4 linked regions of the Homo sapiens genome follow. The protein of the gene in region 1 interacts with the protein of each later gene in a pairwise test. Each region holds a gene or a part of one and is shown on either strand. Other genes may lie near its edges. The genes, in order: SPANXN2, SP3, KHDC4 and ZNF75A.

Region 1 (6,896 bases):
CCAGTTTTGTTCTCTTGCTGGGGAGTTGTGATCCTTTGGAGAAGAAAAGGTGTTCTGGTTTTTGGAAGTTTCAGCTTTTTTGCCCTGGCTTTTCCTCATCTTCATGGATTTATCTATTATTGGTCTTTGATGTTGGTGACCTTCAGATGGGGTTTTTGTGTGGATGTCCTTTTTGTTGATGTTGATGCTATTCCTTTCTGTTTGTTTTCTTCTAACAGTCAGGCCCCTGTGCTGCAGGTCTGCTGGAGTTTGCTGGAGGTCCACTCCAGACCCTGTTTGCCTGGGTATCACCAGCAGAGGCTGCAGAACAGCAAATATTGCCGCCTCTTCCTTCTTCTGGAAGCTTCGTTCCAGAGGGGCACCCACCACATGCCAGCCGGAGCTCTCCTGTATGAAGTGTCTATAAATCCCTCCTTGGAGGTGTCTCCCAGTCAGGAGGCATGGTGGTCAGGGACCCACTTGAGGAGGCAGTCTGTCCCTTAGCAGAGCTCGAGCATTGTGCTGGGAGATCCATTGCTCTCTTCAGATCCAGTAGGCAGGAACGTTTAAGTCCGCTGTATCTGCGCCCACAGCCACCCCTTCCCCCAAGTGCTCGGTCCCAGGTACATGGAGTTTTATCTATAAGCCCCTGACTGGGGCTGCTGCCTTTCTTTCAGAGATGCCCTGCTCAGAGAGGAGGAATCTAAAGAGGCAGTCTGGCTACAGCAGCTTTACCGAGCTGGGGTAGGGTCCGCCCAGTTGAAACTTCCCTGCAGCTTTGTTGACACTGTGAGGGGAAAGCCACCTACTCAACCCTCTTAATGGTGGACACCCTTCTGCCCACCAAGCTGGAGCATCCCAGGTCGACTTCAAACTGCTGTGCTGGCAGTGAGAATTTCAAGCCAGTGGATCTTCGCTTGCTGAGCTCCATGGAGGTGGGATCTGCTGAGCTAGACTACTTGGCTCCCTGGCTTCAGCCACCTTTCCAGGGGAGTGAACGGTTCTGTCTCGCTAGCATTCCAGGCGCCACTGGGGTATGAAAAAAAAAACTCCTGCAGCTAGCTTGGTGTCTGCCCAAACGGCTGCCCAGTTTTGTGCTTGAAACCCAGGGCCCTGGTGGCATAGGCACCCGAGGGAATTTCCTGGTCTGCAGATTGCAAAGACCATGTGAAAAGCATAGTATCTGAGCCAGAGTGCACTGTTCCTCACAGCACAGTCCCTCACAGCTTCCATTGGCTAGGGGTGGGAGTTCCCTGACCGCTTGTACTTCCCAGCTGAGGTGACACCCCACCCTCCTTTGGCTTGCCCTCTGTAGCCTGCACCCACTGCCTAACCAGTCTCAGTGAGATGAGCCAGGTACCTCACTTGGAAATGCAGAAATCACCTGCCTTCTGCATTGATCTCGCTGGGAGCTGCAGACCGGAGCTGTTCCTATTTGGCCATCTTGCCAGCCACTCCCTTTAATTGTTTATTATTCATTTGGGTTGAAAATATAATTACTGAAGTTTTCAATAGGAGTTATTCTATAAAGTACGTTGTAATCTTTCAATAGAAATATGCACTAAATGTTTTCTTAACATTTGGATTAATTTTCCTTGGATAGTGATATACCCATTGAAACATTTTTGGTAAACAAATTTAGAAAACAATTTTAAAAGGTAGTAAGATGATTGAAAGCTGTTATTTTCAAAAATTGTAATCAGTTTCTGACTTACTGTGTTTGATGTGGCATATGCCTTTTGGTTTTCTGTTTGTTTTGTTTTCCATAACATGATATGACAGGGTGTTATTCTCACTGTTGATTGCAGGCAAGAGTACAAAAAATTATTAGAAGTTAGCTTGTGAGCATTTAATAAATGGAATTGTTGAACTATAGACAATGTCTGGGGTTCACTAAAAATGTATACCTTAATAAGAATCTTCTTTTGATTTGTTAATGTTTAGATGACAGTCATGAGAATGCAATAAATGCCTTGTGTCTGGAGGTCAGCGGGGTATCTTTCTAGGCCTTTCTTGTTTTTATGGTGTATAAAATAAAGTTATGTGAGCTTGATGAACACTGGAACAAAATTCCAGGGTCTACTTCTCGTTTGTCTTATTTTTAGATTTTTTTTTTCATTATCAGGTTTTGTGACTTCTTATAGAGAATGAGACAAGTGTCAGTCAACCTGTGGGAGAAATCCTGGGCCATGCCTTCTCTATTTTCAGTCCTCTTTCTTACTGTCTTTTAAAATATTTTTAGATTTTTATTTTGAAACAATTATAAATTCACAAGAAGTTTCAAAGATACGTACATGGAGGCCTTTTGTACCCTTCAACCAGTCTCTCCCAATAGTAAAATCTTCAATACACTACCACATTACACTATCAAAACTAGAACATTGACAGTGATGCAATCCAGAGCTTTTTAAGATTCAACACTTTTCTTTTGACTATTCTAGGCACTTTATATTTCCATAGGAATATTATAATTATCTTGTCAATTTCTATTAAAAAGGCTTTTTAGAATTTTGATTAGAATTTAGTTGAATCCACAGATGAAATTGGAAATAACTGCCATTTTACAATATTGAATCTTCCAACCGAAAATCAAAGTATAGATCTCAATTTTTTTCTTATGTCATTAATTTATCATTGTAAATTTTTGTAGTTTTAAGTGTACAAGTCATTTACATCTTTGGTCAGATTTATCCCTAAGCCTTTAATATTTTTAGTGATATTTTAAATTGCACTGTTCTTAGTTTCAACTTTCAGTTGTTGAAATTAACTTCCAGTCCACCCTAGGACTACCATTGGCTAAAACATTGTCTCTTCTAATATAGAAACTTCTCATATGTAACTGCTAATATATAAACATACAATTGATTTGTGTGTTGATCTCTTACTTTGCAATTTTGCTAACCTCAATTAATGTAGAACCATTTTTTTAGATTGACTTTTCTACATATACTCTCAGGTAGTCTTTGACAAAAGATACTTTTACTTCTCCCTTTCCAATCTGAATGCATTTTTTTTTCTTTTACACTGGACACAATCTCCAGTACAAAGTATAACTGTGCCCATACTGGTGCACATGTGGGTCTTAGATTGTAGCATCCTGCAGGTAAATACTCAGAACAACTTCCAGCACTTGAATATCCACTCCTTCCCCCACCCACATACTGGCAGAATTCATGTTGGGATACTACATTTACTATGAACATAGACCCCTGATTTGAAACAAGACTAGGATACATGGTAAAGAAAGTTTATTCACCAAAGTTTTGACAGACTGAAGGCCATTATTTCAGATTGGAGATAGGAAACTTAAAAGAACTACATGGACATTGGGTAAAAGAACATGGGTTGAAATTTGCCTGGCAGTAGCCTAAAAGTAAATGGTCTTCAAGGTGCATGTGAAGGAACTGTAGGAGGGAAATGGGATAATTCACATCTCCACCAATAATTAAATGTAGCCACACTAGCTTGGAGGGATTTGAGGTGAGACATCTAAAATACTAAGTCATGGTGAGGGCTGGAAGACAAAAGAATGAATGACTTCATAGGAATGACTGTGGGGAAGGGCTTGAAGGAATCATCCTCTCACTTCCATGTGAACCATGAACATTAAACATGGAGAAATGAGCAGCAGCAGATTAGTTTGGGATGCATCTTCAGGGGATGCTGAAACAACAACAGCATTTGGTTTCCTCTACACCCCTGTCATCCGTCCCCCACAAGCCCAGGGAGTGGTCAGCAGTGGTGCTTTGTGATGTCTAAGCCACCCTAGGACTGCCATTGGCTGGGACACTGCCTGTATGATCAAACAAAGCTCAAGAGTGTGGCTTTGCCTTGCCACCAGGAAGGTATACATAGGGAGGGCCAGAGCTCTGGGACATCCTCCTGGCAAGCTTCAATATAGCTGTGGAAGTCTGCAGTCTACAAGAGCCTACTATAGACATTCTACAACCAAGCAGAATCATGGAACAGCCGACTTCAAGCACCAATGGGGAGAAGAGGAAGAGCCCCTGTGAATCCAATAACAAAAAAAATGATGAGGTAAGATTGTTAGGTTTTGAAGGGAAGGTGAGGGTGAAAGAAAGACACACAGAGAAGGGACGGCTCAAACAGCAACACAGGAATACTGCAGACACCTGTGGAAGTGGGGGACCCGCTTAATGCCAGAACCCACCGCCGCTTACAGGCTGGGGTGCTTATAGGTATGGGTGGGAGGGGCCGGGGCAGTATGGCTTGCTGCCCGGCAGGATATTGATAAGATGTTTTTATGATCAGGCTGTTTGGTCCTTTTTCCAGTGGGATGTCATTGTGGTGTTTCTTGGAACTTTGCCCAGCAAGATACCATAGGAAAGTTTCTTTAGTTGGACCTGTGTCCGCCTTGTGTTACGACGATTAGGCAAGATTTTTCTCATGGCCCGAACCCCCGTGGAATGTTTCACTTTGATCAAGGTCTGCAAAATAGCAGGGTGCTTACTAAATGGTGGTTTGGACTCACATTCTTGCCTTCTACTTTAGTATAAAAGGAAGAGGGGCATTGTTGATTATCTGGCTGCTTGCTGCCGAATAGGGGAGCTGTAATCAGGGTTTGGGTTTTGAAGCAGGGGGTGACGGACTTCAGAGTTGTTTTCCTGGAGGCACTGGTACCGGACTTGGCAGAGGAGAAGGATGGTATCAATGTGTTGCTGGGTGGCTGCCTGGAGAGGGGAGTTTAGCCTTCGGGAGATAAAGCAGGATATGAAGGTGAGTATACATCGGCCAAATGTACTATCAGGAGGAGGAAGATTAACGGCCCTAAGAAAGGGACCACCTGCTATCCCAGTGCTGAGTGCATCAGAGATGTTTAGTTCTGCTAACACTAGAATGAGATGTACAGCCTGCTTAGTGTGTGTGGAGGAAGATGAGACAGAAGCTACTAAAGGAACCTGGATGGTCTGCTTGTTAGGCAAAGTGTTAATGTTTAGATTGAAACACAAGGGTGCATGTTCCTGACCAATTGGCCAGTAGGCAGAGATAAGAGTTTGTGCCGCAAAGGAAGAAGACACTAGGGGTGGACAGACAAAAGTTGTAGGTTATGGTGGCAAGTCATGAGAAGGTGGGGGTTGAATTCTGCACAAACCCTTTGTTTTAACTTTTATGTTTTTCCAAGTTGAATACCTGCCAGCAAGGGTAGCCCCTCTGAAGGCCTGATAGGAAATGTTGGTAGTGGAGGAGGTGAAGGCTGTTTGGTTTTGGAGAGAGAGCAGGAAATGGGTTTTTGTAACTAATAGCCATTGCGGTCCTGACAGCGCAGAAGGATACAGGTTGCAGTTGAGGGAATTGTTTGTGGATATTTTCCAGGGAGCGCCCTTGACTTGGATACATGGAGAGCGGCTCCGGCAGAAAGGGGAGGGGTTGATAAGAGGTATTTTCTGGAATCCGACTGGTAACATGTTTAGTTAAGAGGCTATGAGGTGAAGGAGGGTGACAGCCCTGTGTGTGACGGTGTGGGTGGATTTGATGGATTGGTGGGGGGGGAAAGGTGATTAGCCGAGCAAGATTATAAGCAGGTTTTGCGAATGAATTGGTCAATTAGGTGAAATGCAGGTTTATTTTGGACAGGGTTCATGTGGCCAGGTTAACAGGAAGGGCTGTGAACTACTGGATTTGTGTGGACAAACAAATTTAACAGTTGGAAGGAAGAGGGGAGTGTGACTGATTTAAGAGGCAGTGAGGCTGATGAAGGGGGCTCATCTGTTAGACGTTCGGGGTGGGGACTTAGAATATCCCACAGATAGAGAGGACAAAAGGAGAAAGAGGAGATTTGAGTAGGAGTGAAATTTTGGAAGGTGCCCTGAAGTCATATCTCCTTGATTAGTGTGACAAATTGGCCTGGACTATTCAGGGTCATGGGGAAGGGAAACCAGGAAAGATCTGAAATAAAGTAGGAGACAAAAGATTGGAAACTGGAGACAGAGAGTGTTATGGACTAAGGTGTTCTGGATTGGCAACTTCTGGAATTCTTGTTAAGTACAGTGAGGTTGGTCTTGTCAGGGAAGGAGAATAATTTGGGGGTGAACAAATTTCTAGATGTGGATCTGGTGCTCTTTTTAGTTTGAAATGTGCATTCAGTGTGCAAAGGATGTTAGCTTTGGCGCTGTGGGAGTAGTTAGCATCACCTGGTGAGAATTCCTCCACTTAGGTTGGAGAGCGGGGGAGGAGGAGTCTGTGATTCAGACCCAGCCCGCTGGTTGTAGGGACAGGGAGGAGTGTTTTGAGGATGGACTTTTAGGCTGGGTCAAGTAAGCATTTGCGTACTGTCTTATTAGATGTTGGGTGAGGTGTAACGCCGGCCAAGTATTCCATATAGAATGGGGGGAAAATACAGGGAGATTCTGGAGGATAAATGGAGCATTTGTACATGAATTTAAATGGGCTTAGGCTGAGCGCTTTTAGGAAATGACTCATAATCGCATGAGGAACAATGGGAGAAGTGAAGTCCAGGCCATTTTAACCTTTAAGGAGAGTTTGGTTAGTTGTTGTTTTTTATAAAATTTTTCCTGAAGATTCGGAGTGGTAAGGAATATGGAAAGCCCATTTAATGTTTAGAGCCTTTACCAGCTGTTGGTTAAACTGAAACAAATTGGCCCATTGTCTGACTGGATGCAAGAGGGGAGTTTAAACCGGTGGATAATATGGGTGGAGAGAATAGAAGCGATGGTGTGTGCCTTTTTGGTGGTGGTAGGAAAAGCTTTTATTCATCCAGAGAATGTATCTACTATTGTTAGAATGTATAGGAATCACTTTCTGGGGAGCATGTGAGTGATGTTGATTTGCTAGTCCTGCCCTAGTAAGTGTCCTCAGGTCTGGTGTGTGGGAAAGGAGATGGTTTGATAGCTTCCTGAGGGGAAGTTTGAGTGCAAAGGGAACATGCCTTAGTAATA
Region 2 (6,140 bases), on another chromosome or scaffold:
GATATTTTTGTGAAATCACCTCATAATTTTATTTAGTGTTGAAGAAACAACATTGGCCCCTTGCCTTGTTCAGACAGATTTGCGTATAATGTAAATATATATATTAGTGGCAGAAACAAAGTACTGTAGAAACCTAGAAGAGGGAGAATTCTGCATGAAGTCTGGGAAACTCAGCAGAAATGGCGTTTGCAAAGGTACAGTGTGGTATGTTGGGTGATGGGGGACTTTGTGAGGGACAGAGTGGAAAAATTTTTAAGAGGGGCTGCCAAATTGCAAAAGAGAAGAATTTTTTTTGTCAGTGATTCCTAGTCTTTTTGGAATCCTACACCTTCTCCCCAGAAAAATTCATTCTAGTCCAGGGTTTATTGTTTGTTTTTTCCCTATATTTGACAGGGTCTGTCTCTGTCACACAGTGCAGTGGTGCAATCATGGCTTACTGCAGACTCCACTTACTGGTCTCAAGCAATCCTCCCCACTTCGGCCTCTTAAGTAGCTTGGACCACAGGTGCACACCACCATGCTCAGTTAATTTTAATTTGTTTTGTAGAGATGGGGTCTCACTATATTGCCTAGGCTGGTCTTGAATTCCTGGGCTCAAGTGATCCTTCCACCTCTGCCTCCCAAAGTGTTGGGATTATAGGCGTGAGCCACCACGCTTGGCCAAATCTGGAGTCTAAAGGGTATACAAGGTTTTTTTTTTTCCCATGTTGGCTTTTATTTGATGTTATAAAGTCTTCATGATATGAATATATTTTTTAAAAAGGTGTCATGTATATTGTCATGTAACATGATTCATGCCACTTCATTGTATTAAATACGTTTAAGATACAGTTTTTGATGTTAAGAATGATATCCTGAGAAGGCCTATCTCCTTCAGTCCTTTTCCCCATTTTTCACCTTTTAACTCTTGCTTCTGAATCTATGCTAAGCTACTTACTAGATGTGTGATATTGGTAGTTTTCTTACCTTAAAACCTCATTTTCATCATCCATGAAGAGGCTAACAATAGTACTCCCTGTTGATAGGATTGTTGTATTAAAATATAAGCATTCAGCATAGTGCCTGACTTAACGGTAGAGATTCAAATGGTAACCTCCTTCCAATGCCTTCCTCCCCCCTTAACTCTGGAGATTCCATTTTTCTGTAGTGAAGTGTTTTAGAATTTTCATTGTTTGACTATGGTTCATACATTGATTTTTCCAAAATGAGAAGAAGTCTTATTTCTAATGCAAAAATGTGAAAAGAACAGTTGGAACCTAAAGTGATAGTGGATGAAGTGTCTGAAGTGACTGCCCTATCAGAAAAGGATGGAATAAGAAGAAAAGACTGAAGCACCTAAATGTGTATTTTCTTGAGGAAATTACACCCCTGTGTAAGAGTCTATCCTATTTGAACATTTCTAAAAACCAGCCGAAGAATCTTCAGGTTCATTGCGACTGAAAGATAAAGTCTAGCACTGAAGTGGTTTTTAAGATTAGGAAAGGCCATCAGAGAAATGCAGTTATTTCTCCCCTCCATCCTTCCCCCACAAAAAAAAGTCTAAGCCTCCGATTAATCGACAACAACGAAATACAGGAAGTATTGGCTTAGTGACCTTTTAGGATATCTGTCCGACTTACATCCCTTCTCTGAGCATTACTTTCTGCCACCTTCCGTGAGGAGCTGTTCAGAAATCAGACAAGGAGTGGACATCTGGTCAAAGTTGAGCCAATTAGATGATTTCTCCTGAGAATTTGGAATTGGAAAACTGATGTCTTGGGAGGTCACATCTGGAACATACATGGGAGGCAGAGAAAGCAAAGATGACATTCAACCCCAGAAGAAAAAGAAAATGGCTTTCTTGATTCCTGATAACTTGGCAGTGTTTGTTCCAGTGTCTTGCATTTCACTATCTGCATTTCATCCTCCTGGGGTTCCACAAGATAGCCTTAAAACCTTACAGAGAGACTCCCCAACTTAGTTTTTTCTTAAGTCAGAAGGCTGTTACTTGCTACCAAATAATGCCAACTAAGACAACTGAGGTACAGTATATTCTCTCGTAAAACACCATAGAGTTGATGACTTGATCCTATAGAAAAGGGTCCCCAACCCCTGGGCCACAGACCGGTACTGGTCCCTGGTCTGTGAGGAACCACCTGGGCCACAGACTGGTCCTGGTCCCTGGTCTGTGAGGAACCAGGCCATACAGCAGGAGGTAAGCGAGCATTCCTGCCTGAGCTCTGCCTCCTGTCAGATGAGCCACAACATTAGATTCTCATAGGAGTGCGAACCCCGTTGTGAACCCCGCATGCGAGGGATCTAGGTAGTGCCCTCCTTAAGAGAATCTAATGTCTGATGATCTGAGGTAGAGCAGTTTCATCCTACAACCATCCCCACCCCCCGACCCCCATCCATGAAAAAATTGTCTTCCTCAAAACTAGTCCCTGGTGCCAAAAAGTTTGGGGACCGCCGTCCTAGGAAATACCAACAAAAAGTCACGTTTATTGCCTGCCAAGTGAGTCAGGTTTAGACAAGGCAGAACTTAGTATATAGCTTGGATGAATCAGAAAGGGTGGGCCTTGAAAGACTGGTAGAATGTGTCCAAGAAAACTGATTAAAAGCCTTAGAAGTCCCTCTACAGTTTCAGGACGCCCTCTTAACAGATGGCTGTATCTTTATCTGTGGTTGGTCTTGTGGAATACTGACTTTCTGCCAGCATTAGCCTGTGTTTCTATGTCACACCAAGTCACGTATATTTTCATTGTGTGTTAGGACTCAGAATAGGTTTGGGTCTTTCTTTTAATTATGTATACCCAATTACTTAGTCCTCCTCACACCCTGATCCTTTAAAAATTCTTAAGTTGTGTTAATTGCATTTTTCTCAATTCTACTCCTAGTAACTCTGTGTGTTTTTTTCCATCTTTATTCATTTAGTAAAGTTGAAACCTTTCATAGCATAATATAGTGATTAAGTGCATAGGTTTGGGACTTAGACACACATGGGCTTGCTTGTCTCCCAGTTCTGCCGCTTACCACCTATGTGACCTTTCACTCTTTACCTTTCCACTCTTAGCCTGTTCTCTAACTATAAAATGAGAATGATGCTAGCGTCATCTTCATAGAGTGATTATGGAGATAAATAAGTTAATGCATGTAAACCACTTTCCATAATGCCTGGCACATATTATATTATGTATTAGTAAATGTAAGCACTGGAAGAATCAGTAGTCTTCCTACACTTGAAAATAGTTGTCTTCAACTATTGTTGTATTAATGAGTTAATTCACCTTGTTAAGTCACCTTGATCCACCTAATTGTCAGCCAACATTTATTAACGAAACTGCTAGTATTCGTATTGTGCCTTTTTTATTATGAAACATTTCAAGAATACAGAAAAATGCAGAAAACAATGTAACAAATACCTAAGTATCTATCACCCAACTTTTATAGTCTTATTTTTACCTATATATTTTTTCTTTTAGAAAGGAATGATCACAGTTGTGCCTGAAATCTGTATAGCCCTGTCTCATTTCATTTGTCTCCCTTTACCCACATAAGTAATTGCAGCTCTGAATTTGATGTTTATCAGAATGATACCATGAGTGGTTTTATATCCTTATTATATGTATGCATACCTAGGATTGTTTTTCTGATTTTGAAACTTCATATAAATGGTATCATTCTGTACAAAACCTTCTGGGACTTGTTTTACCACTCATGTTTTTGAGATGTATCCACACTACCATCTTTCTCTAAATCATTCATTTAAATGCTGTAGTTCATTGAATAAGTTTATCACAATGTATCCATTTTCTTCTTGATGAGCATCTCAGTTATTTCCAATTTTTGACTTATAAACAATGCTGCAATGAAATAATTGACATATTTCCTTGTGTACATGTGAGCATTTCTTGAGATATGTATCTAGAACTTGAATCACTGGCCAACAGGATATTCTTAATCTTCAGTTTCACCAGATACTTCCAAATTGATCTCCATAACATGCATACCAAATTATATTCCTACCAGCCATTTATAGGAGTTCACATTTTTTCCATACCCTCCCAATCCTGCCTTGGCAGATATGTTTTTTCCAATGAATAACAATGAAATTTTGTTTTGGGATTTGACAAAATGATTCTAGATTCATCTGGAAGAAAAGCAAGTATAAGTAAGAAATTTAAAAGGGACCTGAAAAACTAAGCAATGGATATATTTAAAAATTGGTACCAGTAGGGATAACCAAATATTTGTTAACTGTAGCAGAAACAATGCATGTTTTTCTCACTGGTTCCACCTTCTATCTCTCAGTCAAGCCCTGCCCAGGTGTGGTAGTCCTCATAGTCTCTCACTGTAGGGGTCTTCTCACATAGTAGACCACTCTCTTGAGTTGAATATTGAAAAGAAGGCTTGGCCGGGGGCAGTGGCTCATGCCTGTGGTCCCAGCACTTTGGGAAGCTGAGTCGAGCGGATTGCTTGAGGTCAGCAGTTCGAGAGCAGCCTGACTAACATGGTGATGAAAAGTACAAAATTAGCTGGGGGTGGTGGCGCATGCCTGCAATCCCAGCTACTCGGGAGGCTGAGGCACGAGAATCGCTTGAACGCAGGAGGCATAGGTTGCAGTGAGCCGAGATTGCACCACTGCACTCCAGCCTGGGCGACAGAGCAAGATTTCGTCTCAAAAAAAAAAAAAAAAAAAAAAAAGGCTTAAGTCCAACTAACTGTTTCCCTGCTGTTCATTTTATCCAACGGCTGGGGATATAGGCTACTGCACATGATGGGTTGATGGATGTGAAATGATAACTCATGACTTTAATTCTAATTTTTCTATATTCTGGTGAGGTTGAGCATATTTTTACAAGTTCATAATCCATTTTCCTCTGATGGGAGTTGCCTGTTTGAATCCTTTGCCCACTTGCTTTTTGGGGTTATTTGCAATTTTTTGCATTGATCTTCAAACATTCTTAATTAATCCCAGGTACATATTATTTTATATATAAGATATATTTTAGAGATATATAGGCTGATAGTATCTTTTCTCAGTCTAAGGCTTATCTTTTAATTTTGTTTATGGTGTTTTGTGTGTGTTGTTTTGCAGAAGTTTTATTGTATCTGAATTGTGGCTTTTGTGTCTTAAGAAATTCTTTACCTACTGTCATAAAAATTTTTGTCTAAAAATTTTATGATTTTGCCTTTCTATTTATCTTGTTAATTCACTTTGAAATTACTTTTGTTTATGGCATAAAGTCCATTATTTTCCATATGGATAATCAGTTGTCTTAGCAGTTTATTGAATGGTCCAACGTTTCCCTGCTGATTATAATGCCCTCTCTGTTATTTATCCTAAATTCTTGACATCCGGTAAGGAAGTCTCCTCTGCCCACCCTTCTCTGTATTTCAAAATGGTTTTGACTGTTCTTGACCCCTTGCTCTTTCTGTGAACTTTAGGATTAAATGATTATGTAGAATTAAACAATCGGGTTAAGGTTTTTTATTAGAATTACATTGAATCTATAGATTAATTTGGGGAAAGAATGTTATCTTTCTATCCATGATAATTCTGTATCTCTCCATTAATTCAAGTCTTTAATGGTTTTTAAAAATAAATTATTGTCTCTTTGAAAATCCTTACACATCCTTTATTGCACTGATTCGTATGTAGTTTATGTTTTTGTTGTTGCTTTGGAGAATAGGCTTCTTAAAATTAAATGTTTAAATTGATCAATGCTGGAGTATATAAATGCTATTGATATTTGTAAAATGATTTTGTCTAATAATCTTACATAATTCTTTTGCTGTTCTAATAGTTTGCCTGTAGATCCTATACGATTTTCTGTGGAGACAGTCATATTGTCCTCAAAGAAGAAAATGTTTGTCTCTTCATTTCCAAGTCTTGTGCCTCTACTTTTAATCAACAGCTTAATGTTAAACAGAAGTGGTGGTGCCAGACATCTCTGTCCTGCTTCTGACTACTATTTACTTTTCTTTCTCACATGTAACTATAACATTATTCAGTTCTTATAACATGGTAAGATAGGTGGAATAGGCATTATCTCCATTTCTAGTTAAAGCTGAGTGGGCCAGAGTATCACTCCAAAACACACAGCTAGTAGATGTCAGAATATGTACTCCAGACTTTCTGACTTCAAATCCTGTGTGAT
Region 3 (6,879 bases), on another chromosome or scaffold:
CCACTGAAACACAGGGGGAGTAGCAAGGAGAGGAGACTGACAGAGAGGTTATGGGACCTAGCTCTATGGATTTTATGTGCTCTCCATGGTGTCACTGCTTTAGAGTTGGTAGTAAATGACCTAATAATACCTAAATGACCACTAGGAAAGAATAATTGATTCATATGTCAATTTTTTGACCATGCACCCAACAGAAAGGAAAAATGACCTCAGCCTAACGTATCTCACTTTAGAGAGAGTTTTTCAATTAACAGTAGAACAAAGTGCTATTGAATTGAGTTTAGAAAATCAGATTCCGTTGTATCAATAGAGAAATGTTTTATTATTTTATGTTTCTTTGCTCTGTCACCCAGGCTGGAGTGCAGTGGTGTGATCATGTCTCACTGTAGCCTCAACCTTCTCGATTCAAGTGATTCTGCCACCTCTGCCTCCTGAGTAGCTGAGACTACAGAAGTGCCACCACACTGGCTAATTTTTATTTTTTGTGGAGATGGGGTCTCACTCTGTTGCCCTGGCCTCAAGTGATCCACCAGCCTCGGAATCCCAAAGTGCTGGGATTATAGGCATGAGTCACCTCACTTGGCCATCAAAAGAGAAATGTTATTGGTGAAATTAAGACTTTTATGAGAATTATAAGGCTGGGCACGGGGCTCACACCTGGAATCCCAACACTTTGGGAGGCCGAAGCAGGAGGATCACTTGAGGTCAGAAATTCACGACCACCCTGGTCAACATGGTGAAACTCCATCTCTATTAACAATACAGAAATTAGCCAGGCATGGTGGCAGACACCTGTAATCCCAGCTACTCAGGAAGCTGAGGCAGGAGAATCACTTGAACCTGGGAGGTGAAGGTTGCAGAGAGCTGAGATAGCACCATTGCACTCGAGCCTGGGCAACAAGAGTGAAACTCCATCTCAAAAAAAAAAAAAAGAATTATAAATAAGTGAACTAAACATTTAACTTAAGAAAATAAGGGGGGCCGGGCGCAGTGGCTCATGCCTGTATTCCCAGCACTTTGGGAGGCTGAGGCAGGCGGATCATGAAGTCAGGAGATCGAGACCATCCTGGCTAACACAGTGAAACCCTGTCTCTACTAAAAATACAAAAAATTAGCCGGGCGTGGTGGCAGGCACCTGTATGTAGTCCCAGCTACTTGGGAGGCTGAGGCAGGAGAATGGCGTGAACCCAGGAGGCGGAGCTTGCAGTGTGCCGAGATCGCGCCACTGCACTCCAGCCTGGGCAACAGAGTGAGACTCAAAAAAAAAAAAAAAAAAAAAAAAAAGTAAGGGAGGAAAACAATATAAATTTTCCCAAAAGGAAGGCTGGGTGTGGTGGCTCACGCCTGTAATCCCAGCACTTTGGGAGGCCAAGGCCGACAAATCATCTGAAGTCAGGAGTTGGAGACCAGCCTGGTCAACATGGTGAAACCCCATCTCTACTAAAAATACAAATAATTAGTTGGGTGTGGTGGCACGCACCTGTAATCCCAGCTACTCAGGTGGCTGAGGCAGGAGAATCACTTGAACCCGGGAGGTGGAGGTTGCAGTGAGACAAGATCACGCCACTGCACTCCAGCCTGGGCAACAAGAGTGAAACTTCATCTCAAAAAAAAAAAATTAATATGGAATTGATGAATAAAACTAAAAGCTAGGTTCTTTAACAAGGCAAAAAAAAAAAAAAAGATACGACACAGGAAAGACTAAGGAAAGTAAAAAGAAAAAAGATTTTTAAAAAATTGAAAATATCAAGGGTCGGGGATGATGTGGAGTAATAGGAACCCTGGTACATTGCTGGTGGGCATGTAAAATAGTGTAGCCAGTTGGTTTGGCAGTTCCACAAAAGTTAAACAAGATGTCCATATGACCTAGCAATTCTGCTTCTACATGTAAACCCTAAAGAATTAAAAACAGATACTTAAATACTTGTGAATGTTCACAGCAGCACTACTTACAATACCCAAGAGGTGGAAACAACTCAAATGTTAATCAATGGATGAATGGATAAATTGTGGTCTATACATCCAATGGAAAAGAAATTCAGTGATAAAAAAGAATGAAGTTTATTCAGTGATAAAAAAATGAAGTTCTGACATATGCTACAACATGAATAAACTTTGAAAACACTGTAAGTGAAAGAAGCCAGATACAAAAGGTCACACATTGTATAATTCCATTTATATAAAATGTGTAAAATAGGTAAATCCAGAGAAACAGTAGATTAGTGGTAGCCCATGTCTTGCGGGGCAAGAGAAATGTGAAGTGACTGTTAACAGGTGAGGGGTTTCTTTTTGGGGTGATGAAAATAATCTGGAATTAGATAATGATGATTGTGGCACAATCTTGTGGACACACTAAAAAACACTGAATTGTGCACTTAAATTTACTCTTTAAAAAGGGTAAATTTATGGCATAGGAGTTACATCACAAATTTTTTAAAATGACAAATATAATAAATAATGTAATTTCAATCAGAATCCCAACAGCATTGTGTTTTGGGGAGAAGAGGAAAAGGGGCACTTTGGGGAGGCCGAGGTGGTAGGATCGGTTGAGCCCAGGAGTTTGAGACCAGCCTAGGCAAAATAGTAAGACACCCCCCACCCCCGCACCCCCTACCACCCCGGTCTCTTAAAAAAAAAAAAAAAAAGCCAGGTGTGGTGGCCCGTGCTTGTAGTCCCAGCTACTTCAGAGGCTGAGGTGGGAGGATCAGGAGACTCATTGAAGCTCCAAGACATCCTAAAGGTTAGAAACCTTTAGCCTCGGCAGGGCGCGGTGGCTCACGCCTGTAATCCTACCACTTCGGGAGGCCGAGGCGGGTGGATCACCTGAGGTCAGGAGTTTGAGACCAGGCTGGCCAACATGGCTAAACTGTGTCTCTACTAAAAATACAAAACAACAACAACAAAAAATTAGCTGGGCGTGGTGGCGGGCACCTGTGATCCCAGCTACTTGGGAGGCTAAGGCAGGAGAATCGTTTGAACCCGGGAGGCGGAGAGTGGTTAGCCGAGATCGCGTCATTGCACTTCAGCCTGGGTGACGGAGCGAAACTGTCTCAAAAAAAAAAAAAAAAAAAAAAAAGAAACCTTTAGCCTACAGAATCAACTCAAACTCCTCAGCATAGCATTCAAGGCCTTTCATCTTCTGGCCTCCCACTCCAGCCAGCTCAACCGTTAAGTACACAGATGCCAGAACAGGGTGCTCCATAACCTATGCTTGATCGCCTCTCCAGTACTCAACCGGCTTTTTAGCGTCCCATTCTTAAACGCTCCAGCAAGATGAGCAGCTTATCTTCTTCGACCTTTGCTTAATATACAACTCTATCATACATATTTGCCTGCGTACCTGCCTTGCCACATTGAGAGTACCAGAATGGCAGGGCCTGCGGCTTATTCATCTTTTTATTTTTATATTCCCTGCTTGGTGCACAGAAATGAAGCAAACAAACAGAGAAATTCTCCAAATGATCTTTGCAACGAATCCTTTTCCTTTTCCTAAGTAACAGAAACGTGAAACGGGCAAAAGCCGCGGGAAGGCTGTCTCCCCAGACAGAAACTAGGACTCAACACAAACGTAGCGGAATTTGAGGAGAAACCTGTTTAATCTCCTGACTCATGCATATTGTCTTCTAGTCTAACAACATGCCCACGATAAAGATGGATTCAGCTAGCCCCGATTCCGCATTTATAGTAGGCACAGCAGCCATCTTTCTTAAGGTTAAGGCGCAACCCGGAAGATCACACCCTACCTGCCTCAGAAACGCCAGATGCCTTTAAATCATCGAGAGTCCAATCGGAATCGACATTTTCACCGGAACCGCTCGGCCCCACGACCGGAAGAGGCTGTGCGTAAGAACGTTGGGGGCGGAAGTGACGAGAGGTGGTAGTCGGATAGTTGGCGGGTGGTTGAGTAGAAGCGGTCGCCATGTCCGCGGGGAGCGCGACACATCCTGGAGCTGGCGGGTACGGCTTCAGGGGCGAGGGCATCGGAGCGAGCACTGGGGCGCAGGAGAGGCGGAGGGACCCTGAGAAGCTGCGTATAGGGTGGAAGGGTCCTTAAGTGGGAAGTAAAGGGCTGGACGTTTGGGGAGAAGGATCTTGAGCAGGCCTGGGGCCCTTAAAGGGCCGGCGGGGATCCGAGGGAGGAGGCAAACGGGGACTTTTGGAAGGGCGAGCCAAGGGGAAGGCGTAAACTAGAGCGTGTAGGATAGAGTGGAGTCTTTCGATATAGGTGACAGTAGAAACGAAAGATTTTGGGGAAGGGTTGAAAGTGGGGGTTTGTTAAATAAGCAATAATTGTTTAAGGAGAGGGGAGTTTTAGATTTGGAAGGTGATTCGGAGGTGTAAATGGAATATAATAGAGGGAAAATGGGGTGCTAAGGCGTAGTAAGGAAAGAATAACATACACGAAAGCTTTGGGGCCTAATGTTTTCCTTTTTCTCCATGTAGGCGCCGCAGCAAATGGGACCAACCAGCTCCAGCCCCACTTCTCTTCCTCCCGCCAGCGGCCCCAGGTGGGGAGGTCACCAGCAGTGGGGGAAGTCCTGGGGGCACCACAGCTGCTCCTTCAGGAGCCTTGGATGCTGCTGCTGCTGTGGCTGCCAAGATTAATGCCATGCTCATGGCAAAAGGGAAGCTGAAACCAACTCAGAATGCTTCTGAGAAGGTATTTGAAGTTGAAGGGTCTCCACTAATTGCGAATTTAATAGTTGTTTTGCCGGGCGCGGTGGCTTACGCCTGTAATCCCAGCACTTTGGGAGGCCGAGGCGGGTGGATCACAAGGTCAGGAGTTTGAGACCAGCCTGACCAACATGGTGAAACCCCGTCTCTACTGAAAATACAAAAATTAGTCGGGCATGGTGGCACGCGCCTGTAATCAGCTACTCAGGAGGCTGAGGCAGAACTGCTTGAACCCGGGAGGCGGAGGTTGCAGTGAGCCGAGATTGTGCCAGTGCACTCTAGCCTGGGCGACCCAATGAGACTCCGTCTCAAAAAAAAAAAAAAAAAGTTGTTTGTAATCCTGTAATCGCATAATAATTTGTGTTAGTAAAGGATAAATGGATATAGTAGTTGAGAGATCATTTAGTTTTGGAATGTTCCAGAACACATTTTGTTACAAATACATATTTACGAGGCGTTTTTGATTGGGCTGATTACATTTATGGACCAAATACCTTGTCTTGTCCTTGTTCACTTAGTTCAGCTTAAGCTGTATTTCCATAGTCATTTAAAGCAACATAACATGTTTTTAATATATGTGCTTTTTCCCTGAAGTCAGAGGAGTTCAGGTAAATCAAGTGAGCCCCATAGTGTCATCTCTAATTAGAACCTGTAGGGTTTTATTTATTTATTTATTTATTTTGATAGAGTCTCACTCTGTCACCAGCCTGAAGTGCAGTAGTGGGGTGATCTCGGCTCACTACAACCTCTGTCTCCTGGGTTCAAGTGATTCTGATTCTGCTGCCTCAGCCTCCCGAGTAGCTGGGATTACAGGTGCATGCCACCATGCCCGGCTAATTTTTTTTTGTGTTTTTAGTAGACAGGGTTTCACCATGTTGACCAAGCTCATCTCTGCCTCCCAAAGTGCTGGGATTACAAGTATGAGCCACCAGGCGCAGCCTATTGTTTGCAAAGATTGTGTGAGTCAGTCATCCATTTATAAGGTTTATGAGGAAAAATTAAAAGCATCTTGACAAAGATGTAGTGCTCCTTGTATATTAAGATTTTTAATACTGATGTTAATCGTTTAAGCTCTTTTTTTTTCTTAAAATAATAATCTTTAGGTAGTTGACCTCAGCAGGATACATAAACACTGGATTTAGAATCATAAAACCTAAAAACCCAGAATCCACAGTTTGAAACCCAGAATCCACAGTTACTGGTTACATGGCTTTGGCATAATGAAACTCAGCTTTCTCGTTGGTAATATATACCTGCATTGTGTAGTGCAGTAGTCACTAGCTTCATGTGGCAATTTAAATTAAAATTAAGGGGCTGGGTGTGGTGACTCACACCTGTAGTCCCAGCTCCTCTGTAATTCTTCTTGGATTCTTGGAAGGCTGAGGTGGAAAGATCACCTGAGCCTAGGAGCTTGAGGTTGCATTGAGCTGTCATTTTGCCATTGCACTCCAGCCTGAGCAGCAGAGTGACACCTTGTCTAAATAATACAAATAATTAAATACTCTCAGGCTCCATATCTGTGAGAAATAAATTCCTGTTGTTTAAGCAAAAAGCAAAGCAAAACCAAAATACAATTTAAAATTTAGACCTTTAGTCACATTAGCCACCTGCCAAGTGCTCAAGAGACACATGTGGCTAATGGCTACCATATTCGACTGATAGACTAGAACCCTTGTCACCAAAAGTTCTCTTGGACAACATTGATAAGTACTATTAAAGGCGGCCATAAGGATTCATTGAGATGATAATGTAAATGAATACTATAAGGGGTTAAATAAAGGTAAGGTGATATTGCTGAGTTTGTATTTAGTTTTGCCTCCACATTTAAAAAATGTATTTAATGCACAAAGTAAACAACAGTATGTTACCTTCTTGAGCAGATTTTCTAGACATAGGTTGGGGAGATAGGCCCCTGTAGTCCCAGCTACTCAGGAGGTTAAAGCGGGTGGGTGGATCACTTGAGGCCAGGAGTTCAAGAACAGCCTGGGCAACATGGTGAAACCCTGTCTCTACAGAAAATACAAAAACAATTAGCTAGGTGTGGTGCATGCCTGTGGTTCCAGGGTCTGGCTTGATTGCCCAGGCAGTGACTGTGCAGTGGCACAGTCTCTTCCTCCCAGGCTCAGCCTCCCAAGTAGCTGCGACTACAGACGCATGCCACCATGCCCGGCTAATTTTTTTTATTTTTTGAAGAGATGGGTTTGC
Region 4 (7,041 bases), on another chromosome or scaffold:
GGGAGACCAAGGGGCCTGCAAGAGAGAGCTCCGGTCAGAGTAAAAAATCTCCTCAAATGGACTGTCTCGATCCTAAGAGCTCTTGCTGGCACTTCCGGAATTTCACCTATGATGAAGCAGGTGGACCCCGTGAGGCTGTCAGCAAACTTCAAGAATTATGTCATCTATGGCTGAAGCCAGAGATCCACTCAAAAGAGCAGATACTGGAACTGCTGGTGCTGGAGCAGTTCCTGACTATTCTGCCCAGGGAGACACAGACCCAGATGCAGAAGCACCATCCACAGAGCATTGAGGAGGCTGTGGCTCTGGTAGAACACTTGCAGAGGGAATCTGGTCAAACATGGAATGGGGTGAGAAGAAAGATTCCTGACATGTACAGTGAAATAGGATGCAGGTGGATATAGTAGAGATGGTGGCAGTTAGTTGAGAAATTAGATGGATTAGGTAGGTCATTGTTTGGTTTTTTTTTTAAGGACAGTTAAGGTGGGACTTGAAACTACAGGCCCACAGAAAAGTTCACAGGTTTCAGAGATTGTGGTAGATACTTCCCTGGCCTTAGAGAAAGAGAGTTGCTTTTGCCCTCTTTGGAGCCAGGGTGAATTGAGGGTGTTGGGCCTAGTCTGGCTTGGCCAAGGAGACAGGACTTAAGTACTTAGAAACAGAATAAAAGGTAATAAAGAGTCAGGGAGGCTGGATGCAGTGGCTCACACCTGTAATCTCAGCACTTTAGGAGGCTGAGGCGGGTAGATCACCTGAGGTCAGGAGTTCAAGACCAGCCTGGACAGCATGGTGGAACCCTCTCTCTACAAAAATAAACAAATTAGCTGGGCATGATGACCGGTGCCTGTAATCCCGGCTATCCTCGAGGCTGAGGAGGGAGAATCATTTGAACCTGGGAGGTTGCAGTGAGCCGAGATCGCACCATTGCACTCCAGCCTGGGCAACACAGCAAGACTCCATCTCACAAAAAAAAAAAAAACAAAAAAAACAAAAAAAAAACGGGCCGGGTGCAGTGACTCACACCTGTAATTCCAGCACTTTGAGAGGCCAAGGCAGACAGATCCCCTGAGCCCAGCCTGGGCAACATGGTGAAACCCCGTCTCTACAAAAAACATGAAAATTAGCCAGGCATGGTGGCACACACCTGTGGTCCCAGTTACTTGGGAGGCTGAGTCAGGAGAATCACCTGAGCCCAGGAGGTGGAGGTTGCAGTGAGCTGAGATGGCACCATTGCACTCCCTTGGGTGACAGAGTGAGAACCTGTCAAAAAAAAAAAAAAAAGGCAGATCCACAAGGAGAACACAGGAAAACAAGGACACTTAAAGAAAAGGAGAAATTGGCCAGGTTCGGTGGCTCATGCCTATATTTCGAACACTTTAGGGGGTCGCGGTGGGAGGACTGCTTGAGACCAGCCTGGGGAACATAGTGTGACCTTGTTGCTATGAAAAAAAAAAAGAAAATAAGCCAGGCTGATGGCACATGCCTCTAGTCCCAGCTTCACAAGAGGTTGAGGTGAGAGAATTGCTTGACCCAGAAGTTTGAGGCTACAGTGAGTTATTATTGCAGCATTGTACTCTGGCCTGGGCAACAGAGTGAGACCTTGTCTCTTAAAAAAAAAAATGTTTTAGGCCAGGCGTGGTGGCTCACATCTGTGATCTCAGCACTTTGGGAGGCTGAGGCGGGCGGATCACAAGGTCAGGAGTTCAAAACCAGCCTGACCAACATGCTGAAACCCTGTCTCTACTAAAAATACATAAACTAGCTGAGCATGGTGGCGTGTGCCCGTAATCCCAGCTACTCAGAAGGCTGAGGCAGGAGAATGGCTTGAACTCGGGAGGCAGAGGCTGCAGTGAGCTGAGATTGCACCACTGCACTCCAGCCAGGGCAACTGAGCGAGACTCCATGTGAAAAAAAAAATGTTTTTAAAAATTAGGAAAAATCCAGCCTGGGCAACATGGTGAAGCTCAGTCTCTACAAAAAATACAAAAATCAGCTGGGCATGGTGGCGTGTGCCTGTAGTCCCAGCCACTCGGGAGGCTGAGGTGGGAGGATCACCTGAGCCTGGGGAGGATGAGACTGCAGTGAGCCATGATTGTACCACTGTACCCCAGCCTGGGTGACAGAGTGAGACCCCCGTCTCAAAACAAAACAAACAAACAAAAAAAACAACTAGGGGAAGACTGCACAAGAAAAGAAAACATAGAAAAAAGGGAAACAAAGATTTGGAAAAAAGAAAAATCCCAACAGAATAGCCAAGGACAGGAAATGCACTGATGGGTAATGTCCTCCCTATAGTAGATGAAAGTCTCTACTGCCTTCCCTTAATGCTTGTTCCTTGGCTCTGCTGACAAGTTGGGAGCCAGGGTATGAACTTGGTGGGTGGCGACACATCTGCTGACCTCGGGTCTGCTGGGAAGAATACAGGGCAGGACCTATGTTTGGTGTCAGAATCATCTGGAGGTAGGTTGGAGCCACTCCCCTTTTTTCTCCATTCTATCCCCATTCTCTGAAAACCTTCGCTGGCTATAGGGATAATCAGGCTGACAGGAAAACTTTTAAATTCATTTATTTGAATTTTAGAGAAAACTAGAAGACAGAAAACCACAACTGTGGGATTGAAGTCAACAGAAAAGGCCTGACAAGACAGTATTAGAATGAGTGGCCTGCCTGGCTGGGCACAATGGCTCACACCTATAATCCCAGCACTTTGGGAGGCTGAGGTGGGCAGATTACCTGAGTTTGGGAGTTTGAGACCAGCTTGACCAACATGAAGAAACCCCGTCTCTACTAAAAATGCAAAAATTAGCCAGGCGTGGTGGTGCATACCTGTAATCCCAGCTACTTGGAAGGCTGAGGCAGGAGAATCACTTGAACCCAGGAGGCAGAGGTAGCAGTGAGCCGAGATTATGCCTTTGCACCCCAGCCTGGGCAACAAGAGCAAAACTCATCTCAAAAAAAAAAAAAAAAATGAGTGGGCTGCCCAACCCTGCCAGTGGCCTGACCTAGACCGTATACAGAGGAGTAGAAGCTGCTGTGTTAAAGGGCTGGCAGGCACCACAGTTTGTTTCCTTTCACCCTAGTTTTCTCATATTTGTGTATAGTCATTTGTGGAGCATTGGTGGCCCAGTATCTCTTTAAGCCTTTTTTTGTCATTTTTTTTAGTGTCTTATACTACCCACAATGTGGGCTGTACACCTGTCGCTCTGCCTCCACCCCCACAAACCAAAAGTAAGTTCTGTGGTAACAAGGATGGGAATTATTTCTAGGTTGCAGTCCATGAGCTGGGAAAGGAGGCAGTGCTCTTGGGAGAAACAGCAGAGGCCTCAAGTTTCGGGCTGAAGCCAACAGAGTCCCAACCAGTGGGCGTATCCCAAGATGAAGAATTTTGGAATACATACGAGGGTCTGCAAGAACAGCTCAGCAGGAATACTCATAAAGAGACTGAGCCTGTGTATGAGAGGGGTAAGGAGCTTCATGATAATTTTCTTCTCCTGGGAGCTGTGATAATAGTTTATTCACCCAAAATGTCATGGGCATTTTTTGAATACCCTGCTCTGTGGATTTGTAAAACCAGCCTTGATAGCAACTATGATGTCCTTCCAGGCAGCAGTAGAAATGCCAACTGTGGATGAAAGTGGGAGTAGGCCTAGAGAACAGAAATATCTAAACCACAGAACTCTTGGTAATAACAGTGTGAACTCTGTTCCTTAGACTAGTGGAGAGGAAGGAAAGAAATGGAGTGGGAAGGCTTGGGGCCACTTCATCCTTGTAAAATACAGAAGGAATTGAGATCAGATGGGCTGTTAGTGGCAGAATGTGAAAACAGTTGTGTACCAGGAAAAACATAATAAAAGACAAAAAACTTCATCTCCTACCATACAGTGGAGTCCCTGAGTACTTCATTTTAAGATATCTTTAATTTTTGCCTAACTCAGAAAAATATGAGAGGAAAAAGGGATTTCCCTTTTATTTCTCTGATGAAAACTGAGGAAACATTTAGTTGGGGAACTAGTTCTAGGGGCTGGTGGATATTTGATTCTTATTTATGAAGAGACTGCTTCAGGCATCACACACACCACACGTGTAAAGGTGTCCCATCTGTACTTAAAAAGTCAGGATCAGTGTTTTAGAAATGAGCTCAGGATGTTTATAGATAAAAGAGATTTCTTCTGGCTCTTTTCCCCCCACAGCTGTGCCTACTCAACAGATTCTAGCTTTTCCTGAGCAAACAAACACCAAAGACTGGACAGTGACACCTGAGCACGTCTTGCCTGAGTCCCAGGTGAGCTGTGCTTTCCAGCTGTTGAGGGCTACCTTTCTCTGCTATGTATGATTAATACTGTCCAGGAGGGGTTCAGAGGTGTGTTAGTCCCGGGTGTTCTCTGGGCAACTGGGTACCTCCCAGGCTGTGGGCTGACGCCTTTTCTCCTTTTTTTCTGCCTTCTCACTTAAAAAAATCATGTTCTTTTAATTCCTTTATCGCCTGGCCAATTCATAGCCAGGTGGCTAGGCTGCTTCTGTACAGTGGCAGGTTCTGAGCTGAAGTCCATTCTCTTCTTTAGAGCTTGTTGACATTTGAAGAAGTGGCCATGTATTTTTCCCAGGAAGAATGGGAGTTATTGGATCCCACTCAGAAGGCCCTCTACAATGATGTAATGCAGGAAAACTATGAGACTGTCATCTCTCTAGGTAAAGATTTTCCCTTCCCTTTATGTAGTTGAGTACTCTATTCTTGGCTTACTGAGAAGGAACCCCAGTGAGGGGTGTCTTACTGTTCCAGGAGCTGGTTGATTCTCATCTAGATGGTATAGGGGAGGGTGTAGGTAGTGTATCCAGATCACCTGTGGAGCTTTTTCCAAATGTACATGCCGATTGCTTATCCCACATTGAGTCCTTTATCCTTTCCTTCTCTTTTCCACCAAACTTCCTCTTCTGTGTCTTACTTATCTCAGTAAGGGGCACATTCATTATCCAGTGGCTCAAGGCATACAAAGTAACAGTTTTCCTTTATTCTGATCTTGTCATCATACCCCACTGTTAATTCATTAGCAAGTTTTCTTAGCTTTACTTTGACATATCCTGACTGCAACAATGTCTCATCTTCTTGCACTGTTAGCATCCTGGTGTAAGCCAGTGTCATCTTGAACCAGGCATACATGCGTAGCTTTTTAACAGGTGCGCCTGCATCTCCTTGTGCCCTTCCACAGTCTGTTTTCTATACAGAAGCTAGATTGATCTTTTAAAAACCTAATCAGATCATGACATTTCCTTTCCTCAAAAGCATGTGGTCACTTACATTCAGAAAAAAAAGTCTGATATTACCAGGGCTCCAGGACACTCTACAGTCTGGTTCCTGCTCATCTGTCTGCCCTCATTTGCTACTGAAGCCCTTGCTCAGTCCTCACCAGCCACTTAGCTAGTCTCCTTGCTGTTAATTGAATTTGTCAAGTTCATTTTTACCCTCTTGTTTCATTTTATTTGGCACACTGGGCTTCCTGAATACTTCATTTTCAAATTGAGTACATCTAAGTTTTGCTCAACTCAGAAAAATGTATATCATGCAAGGGGAAAAAACGCTATATATATATATCTTTTTATTAACTTTCCTCTTGAAAACTGAGGATAATCATCTGGGGAACCGGTTCTAGGGGCTGGTAGACACTTGGTTCTAATTTACAAAGAACCAAGTGGTTACCATACACACTCTTAAAAAGGTGTCCTATCTTTCCAGAAAGAATCAGGATTTTCTGTATTTTAGAAATGAGCTAAGGATGATCATAGAAACAAGAGAAATATCCTCTGGCTCTTTTCCACCCACAGCTGTGCCTGCTCAACAGATTTTAGTCTTTCCTGAGCAGACAAACACCAAAGACTGGACAGTGGCACCTGAGCTCCTCTTGCCTCAGTCCCAGTTGAGCTGTGCTTTCCAGCAGTGTAGGGCTACCTGAGCATGACCTTATCTGCCTTTCCCTGCTGCCCAAGACCCACACTGCCCAGCATGTGCCCTGAGGCATGTTAGCCCCAGAGGTTCTACCCTGGACAATTAGGCTTGGCCCAGAGGGAACTGGGTACCTCCTAGGCTGTTTGCTGATCCCTTGGCTCCTTTTCTTCTGCCTTCGCCCCCGTGGGCCCCCGCCTTTTTTTTTCTTAAATCGTATTCTGTTAATTTCTTTAGCACCTGGCCTACCATGCAGTTCATACGCAGTTAGGCTGCTTCTGCAGTGGCAAGTTCAGAGCTGAAGTCCATTCTCTTCTTTAGAGCTTGTTGACATTTGAAGAAGTGGCCATATATTTTTCTCAGGAAGAATTGGAGTTACTGGATTACACTCAGAAGGCCCTCTACAATGATGTAATGCAGGAAAACTGTAAGACTGTCATTTGTCTAGGTAAAGATTCTCCCTTCTTTTTGTGTAGAAGTTGAGCAATCTGTTCTCAGTTTACTGAGAATGAACCTCTGTGAGAGGGTCTCAGTGTTCCAGGAGCTGGTTGATTCTCAACTAGATAGTGTAGCGGAGGGTGTAGGTGGTGTATCCAGATCACCTGGGGAGCTTTTCCAGATGTACGTGCTCATTCCTTGTCCTACGTGGAGATCTTGATCCCTTCCCTTTCCCTTTCCCCAAACCTTCTCCATCATGTTTTTCCCATCTCAGTAAGGGGCATCAGCATTATCCAGTTGCTCAGGGCAAACAAAGTACTGTCATGTTTTTTTTTTTTTTTTTTTTTGAGATGGAGCCTCGCTCTGTCGCCCAGGCTGGAGTGCAGTGGTGCGATCTCAGCTCAGTGCAAGCTCTGCCTCCCGGGTTCATGCCATTCTCCTGCGTCAGCCTCCCAAGTAGCTGAGACTACAGGTGCCCGCCACCATGCCCAGCTAATTTTTTTTGTATTTTTTTAGTAGAGATAGGGTTTCATCATGTTAACCAGGATGGTCTCCATCTCCTGACCTTGTGATCCACCTGCCTTGGCCTCCCAAAGTGCTGGGATTATAGGCGTGAGCCACCGTGCCCAGCTAGTACTGTCATCTTTTACCCTGATCTTGCCATC

What was found.
Region 2: the proteins of SPANXN2 (region 1) and SP3 interact in binary tests that used the Homo sapiens proteins (3 or more experiments, as listed by UniProt).
Region 3: the proteins of SPANXN2 (region 1) and KHDC4 interact in binary tests that used the Homo sapiens proteins (3 or more experiments, as listed by UniProt).
Region 4: the proteins of SPANXN2 (region 1) and ZNF75A interact in binary tests that used the Homo sapiens proteins (3 or more experiments, as listed by UniProt).

The regions. Positions count from the first base shown.
Region 1 is NC_000023.11:143,717,712-143,724,607, reverse strand, and holds the start of SPANXN2 (sperm protein associated with the nucleus on the X chromosome N2), read left to right. Parts: upstream 1-3,855; 5' UTR 3,856-3,939; coding exon 3,940-4,017; intron 4,018-6,896.
Region 2 is NC_000002.12:173,900,239-173,906,378, reverse strand, and holds the end of SP3 (transcription factor Sp3), read left to right. Parts: 3' UTR 1-5,604; downstream 5,605-6,140. UniProt on the Homo sapiens protein: Transcriptional factor that can act as an activator or repressor depending on isoform and/or post-translational modifications. Binds to GT and GC boxes promoter elements. Competes with SP1 for the GC-box promoters.
Region 3 is NC_000001.11:155,931,414-155,938,292, reverse strand, and holds the start of KHDC4 (KH homology domain-containing protein 4), read left to right. Parts: upstream 1-3,879; 5' UTR 3,880-3,919; coding exon 3,920-3,957; intron 3,958-4,443; coding exon 4,444-4,660; intron 4,661-6,879.
Region 4 is NC_000016.10:3,308,487-3,315,527, forward strand, and holds part of ZNF75A (zinc finger protein 75A), read left to right. Parts: coding exon 1-350; exon of another isoform or gene 351-2,460; intron 2,461-3,162; exon of another isoform or gene 3,163-3,266; coding exon 3,267-3,462; intron 3,463-4,190; coding exon 4,191-4,282; intron 4,283-4,562; coding exon 4,563-4,689; intron 4,690-7,041. UniProt on the Homo sapiens protein: May be involved in transcriptional regulation.